2 separate regions of the Homo sapiens genome follow, and region 1 is linked to region 2. Evidence: fine-mapped expression QTL. A gene starts in region 2. The other region holds a variant in brackets. All regions are shown on one strand. Distances are between the middles of the regions. Region 1 overlaps KANSL3 (KAT8 regulatory NSL complex subunit 3). Region 2 holds the start of ARID5A (AT-rich interaction domain 5A).

Region 1 (2,906 bases), 90 kb after region 2:
ATCACGTTGCAAACTTTAATTCCAACAACAGAGAATAAGGTATAATTTATTTATGAAATATCAACAGCATTTCCAAAATTATCCTGTTTTTATTACATAATGATGCTTTCCCTATTTGTTTTTCTTACTCTGTATTAATTCTGCAATCCAAAATTATGGGAGTAAGGAAAATGATGTGAATGCAAGATGCAGAGGGTTAGAAAGCTATTTAGAAATTATTACCATACACCAATGACAGCTGAAATTAAATTTTAAAACCACAACGTTGAGAGTCCAAAATCCCAGAAAAAGTTCTTAGGATTGCTGCTGGATATATAACAAAGTGACTCCAAGAATTGAAACATGATCTCTATATTTTGTCAGCTTCGTGGGAGGCTAGAAAATTAAGTGGGCAGAAAAAAAATGATCTAAACCAAGATTAAGATAAAGAGCATGCAAGAGATATAATTAGCAAAAATTTTAAAAACAGGAGACAGAATTTTAAATACAAGCCTAAACAGTCAAATAGCTGATGGGAACTGTGGTGAGCCAACTGGCACTCCCCACCCCGTGCCCCACCCGCCTATTCAATTTTCATGAGGGCAAAAATGTCTTTTCTTCCTTTCTTAGATGAGATCAGAAAATCTTTTGTTCTCCCTGCTCTGACTGAACCTGAATGATATGCTGACCTCTGGCTCATTCTATTCAAAGCAGCCAAAATATAACATTGGTCCTGAAAATATCTGGTATTTTCAAAGGTAATCATTATTTTGGATACTGTTTCAAAGAAGACTAATTAATTCAACATTAAAATATCTAAAGGATTTTTTTTTAACCAGAAGTCAAACAAGGAGACACAAAGTACATCAGATAAACTCAACAGTCATACTTTCCTTTTTCAGATTATAAAATTCTTTGTCTAAACACTAGAAGAAGGGAAGGAATGAAGGAAGGGGAAATAAAGAGGGTGGGGGAGGGGAAGGAGGGACGATAACTCAAAGACCTTGGACTTAAAATTTCAAACATCCAACCTAAGATTTATACAGATACATACAATATTGAATATAAAACTAAAGAAGGCTCAGAAAAGGAAAATGGGGTGTTTTTGGCTGGAATTCAGAAGTTCTGATTTCTAAGATAAGAAAGCCTGCTTTTGGATACTACTACATTCTTTCACTAAAATGTTGGAAATGTCCTAAAATCCATTTGAGCAATTCTGAGAAGTATCATGTGTCAGGAAAATTTTATTAAAT[G/A]TCTTTCAAAAGCTATGCAACTAATGAAACTTCACATTTGACAAACATCTGGAGGGAAAAAAAAGCTGGCCCAACATCTTCAGGACTACATCACTATGCCAGCAAATAGAAATCATTTTCAAAGGTCCTCTAAGTCACATGCCATGGCACGCAGACACAAGAACATGACCCAGGAAGCTCACTTTTTCTATAAGAGGCCGGACAGAAAATGTTTTAGGGTTTCCAGGCCATATGGCTTCTGCCACTATTCAATTTTGTGGCTTTACTGCAAAAGCAGCCATGGATAATACCTAATGAATATGACTGTATCTCAATAAAAGCTTATGCACACCGAAATTTTAATTTCATGTGTCATGAAACAGTATTAATTTTTTTGCAACTATTTAAAAATGTAAAAATCATTCCACACAAAAACAAGCAATGGGCCAAATTTAAATCAGCCCACTGTCATAGTTAGACAACCACTAATGCAGACAATTAAATAAGGTAGTAATATTTAAACCATTTCACAAAATATCAGCCATTAATAAAGAAAGCCAGAGTCAGGGGCAGGGAAGGGAGGAACATGCTTCTTTTTTTTTTTTGAGACGGAGTCTTGCTCTGTTGCCCGGGCTGGAGTGCAGTGGCACGATCTCGGCTCACTGCAACCTCTGCCTTCCAGGTTCAAGAGATTCTCCTGCCTCAGCCTCCCGAGTAGCTGAGATTACAGGCGTTTGCCACCACACCAGCTAATTTTTACTATTTTTAGTAGAGACGGGGTTTCACTATGTTGGTCAGGCTGGTCTCAAACTCCTCACCTCAAATTATCTTCCCGCCTCAGCCTCCCAAAGTGCTGGGATTACAGGCGAGAGCTACTGCGCCTAGCCTATATACACAAAGCTATCTGAAGACAGTTTCTACTGAAATCATTCAAGAGAGAGGAAAAAAGCTCTTAACAAGGAAATTAAGTTTCTGCCTCCACAGACAAAGAGCAATCAGTAAACTCTCCGGGAAAGAACTCCAGAGTTCTAGGGAGCCGACCTACACCGTTCATGGAGCTCTTGATGTGGCAAACTAATTTTACATGACTTTATATAAGAAGAAAGGAAGCAGCAATTTAACAATCAAGTCAGGGAAAGAATGGCAACACGATGATTATAATCAGAGCAGAAGGAACTGCAAGCTCCAAACAGGCTACAGATTCAGGGACAGGGTCATAAAATGGTGGTATCTGAAACTGAAACTAATAAGTTATCATAAATAATAAAATCGGCTATGTACAAAAGTTACCTACCAAAAGAGATGGTGTGTAAGCCTGCTGCCAATGAGAGAAGGCCTCCAAAATCTCATCAGACACTAAGAAAACAAATAATCTGATAAATTGAGCTTTAATGGATTACATCAATCTGTGGCAATGTGGCAATGTCATAACAGAAGGGTGGTGGTCCACAAGGAGACTGGAGAAAGATAAGCCAAAGACAAGAATCTGTCAGTGTTTCTCTAAAGGACAGGCAGGAGAAGGTGCACACTGGCCTATTCCGTGGACTCATCTTGCCTAGAGGAAAGATGTGTACATCCAGCTATTCTGCTGTGCCTCCTGTGTAGACTCTCCACTCATCTATTCACTTCTGAAATAAAATGGTTTTCCAGACTTTCCTGCTGAGAACAGACACTCTGGCCAGGCCACCCCAGTGT
Region 2 (2,906 bases):
ACAAAGGTGCTTCCTGATGGCATCCCATCATAGTGTCTTCCACCACAGCCTTAGCTTTCCTGGAGGGGAAAGTGGCTTGTAAACTTGCCAAAGTGGGATGCATTGTTATAATTACCATTATGATTGTTCTGGGTGTCTATTACCAATTCTACAGGTGCTGGCTCTTACAAGCCAACCCATTATGAGGTAGACAGGGGATTTATCCTGCAGAGCCCACAGGGTCGTCTGCTCTAGACTGAGCCTGCAGACATCTTCCATCCCAGGGCCAAAGGGTAAGGGCCAGGGTTTCAGGTTCACCAAACTGCAGCCCTGGTCCCTTCGTTTAGTGTGAGGAGGGGCACCAGTATGATGAGTGGTTAGTAATGGGTGCAAAGCGGGTGGGGGGATGCCTGGGTATGAGGGCTCCTCTTCCTGGGTCTAGCTCTGGCTCCAACACCTACCAGCTGTGCTACTTGAGCTAATCTCTCAGACCTCAGTTTTACGCTATAAAATGAGGACAATGATGGTGTCAAGTGCATAGAGCTATTATGAGTATTAAAATTCATCAACAAAGATTTTTGTGTAGCTTCTATGTGCTAGGAACAGGGTTCCCATCCTAGCTAGCCACCTGCTGAGACTGAAACCCTGAGCCTCCATTTCTTCCTCTTTGGCCTGCACAGGTCCAGGTTGCTGCTATGGCTGGCTGGGCACCTCCTCCTGCCTCCATTCGCCCTAGGCCTCATTCCCACCTCCCACAGCCTGAACTCATGCCCCTTCTTTGGACTACTCAGCTTGTAGCTGCCACACTCTGTCTGCATTATGTGTGTGGACATTGACTATTACTGGCAGGCCTGGCCACAGAGCCTAGGCCAAGGATTTACTAGTTTGGTCCTTGTCTAGCTCACACTAACCACCTCTCCTTTTTTTTTTTTTTTTTTTTTTTTTTTTTTTTTTTGAGGCAGGGTCTCCGTCTATTGCCCAGGATCCAGGATAGAGTGCAGTGGTGTGATCAAAACACACTGCAGCCTCGACCTTCTGGGCTCAAGTGATCCTCCCGCCTCCGCCTCCCAAAGCAGGGATTCCAGGCGTGAGCCGCCGCTCCCGGCCTCACCTGGCCTTCTTTGTTGGGCTAGGTGGGGACTGGGAAATGCACAGGGCCACTTTCAAATCAAAGTCAGAAGCACTTTGCTCGCTCCACAGAGTCCTCAGTGCTCTGCTGAAAGCAAGGAGGCTTTTTCCAAGGCTCTAGTTTTGCCTCCAGGGAAACTGAGGCACAAGGCAGCAATGATTACTGAGGGTCCTGCCTCCGCTCCTCTAGGTGAGGAGCCTATTCCAGGGGCTCCAGTCTGAAAGCCTAGAGGCGAGGGGCGCGCACTACAATTCCCAGAGGTCCCCGGACTCAAGGGCGGTCCCCGCCCCCCGCCTTCTCCGCGCGACGAAGCCGGGCTTACCAATGGGAGCCCGGAGTGGGGCGAGCAGGGGCGGGACGGGGCGGGACTGCGGGGAGGTGGCCGGCGGGCCGCGCCGCGAGCCAGTATCTCAGAGAGCGCGGGGTCCGGACAGCCGCGCGCTGAGGGTCTCGGGGCGGGCGCCGCGGGACCTCTCCGGGCCATGGGTAAGCGGCTCTGCGGCGCGGCCCGGACAGGGGCTCGGCGGCCCTGCAGGGAGGTTCAAGGTGCCGGCGCCGGGTCCCCTCCAGCCCTCGTGGCAGTCGGTGCGCTGTGTGGGGCGGAGAGGGGCCCGGGGTGGGTTTCGGGGCGCGGGCCAAGGGGAGCGAGCCCGGCCCGCGGCTTCAGCGCTCCCCGGCCGGCGCGGAAGGGGTGAGGCTGGGCGTCCGCGCGAGCTTCGAGAAAAGGAAAGACAAAAAGTTTTGGCGGCCAGGGGCTTCCCGGGCGTTTATCTCGAAACTCTTTTCGCCGTCTCTTGCCTGAAATATGCCGAGCCCGGTACGGCTCTGTCGTCCCACTTCCTGCTGCGGTTTCCACCTCGAGCTGGGCTCAGCTAATTTGTTGTGACAGCTGTCGGCAGCCGCCCCTCCGCCCCGTGACATCCCGCAGGTTTCAGAACCGCGGCGCCGCCGGGCACAGACTCCGGGTCCAGAGCGCGCGGCCCTTTCCTCTGCGGCCGCCGTTTCCTGAAAGGGGCTGCGCGGGTGTGAAGAACTTGCTCAATGCGCTTTGTAGGATCCACTGTTCCTCTTTCGGCCGCGGGCTGCGCCGATGGTCCGGGGAGCCCGGCTTCTCGCCCCCTGCCCCTTCCTTCTCTTCCCTTTTCTCTTTTCCTCTCCTGTCTCTCCGCCCACCCGCCGCAGCCCCACAGGAGAGGGGTCGCTTCCCTGGTTGCTCTCCTCTCCTGTCCCTTGTGTGTCCCCTTGTCTTCCCTCGGTCTGCAGAAGGGACGGGGTGGCGGCTGGGGAGCGTCAGGGGAAGAGGGCAAGAGCGTGGGCTACGAGCTTGCAGGCGATGCCCGGCTTCGCGCTCGGCGGGAGCTGCGGGCCAACCCGGGCCCGCGCTCCGTCCCTCCGCGGTGTCTAGGGGTCGCCCGGGCTGGGGTCGCGTCACCCTCCGCCCAGCGCCGGCGTGGTGGGGCTTGCGCGGTGCAGGACCCCCGAGGGCCCAGGGGGTCCCAAGGCGCTGCGGGTCCAGTGTCCCTTTGTTTGCAGAGTCTTGGGCCAGTAAGGAGTGCTCCGCGGGCCCCAGGGGAGGACAACAGGTGCCTCTTGCCCCACCCGGGCTCCTCTGGTGGGAGCCCACACGCACGGTGGCGTCACTGCGCCTACAGGCAACGCTAGAGCACAGGAGGGGTGGGAGGTCGGGGCTCGAGGGCTTCACCCCGCAGCAGAGCTCAGAGCCCAATCCAGGCCTTAGGGACCCGCCTGGGGCCTAGAACTTGGTGTGGCAGAGGTAGAAAGGGCCTCCGATAATCTG

Evidence for each region. PIP is the estimated chance that this variant, and not a neighbour inherited with it, causes the effect. A credible set is the group of variants that fine-mapping cannot tell apart.
Region 1: its variant is the best candidate, but not a certain one, in a credible set for the expression of ARID5A in monocytes (TOPMed, PIP 0.90).

What each region holds. Positions count from the first base shown.
Region 1 is chr2:96,625,417-96,628,322 of GRCh38, forward strand. The region is part of intron 3 of KANSL3 (KAT8 regulatory NSL complex subunit 3); the gene reads right to left. Among named protein-coding and RNA genes, the nearest start is that of KANSL3, 11 kb to the right of the region's middle. The variant G/A (reference allele first, on the strand shown) is at 1,233.
Region 2 is chr2:96,535,237-96,538,142 of GRCh38, forward strand. It overlaps ARID5A (AT-rich interaction domain 5A), which reads left to right and starts at 1,516. Exons shown (of 7, transcript NM_212481.3): 1 at 1,516-1,594. The coding sequence starts at 1,591. RefSeq lists silencers at 1,435-1,794, 2,475-2,684.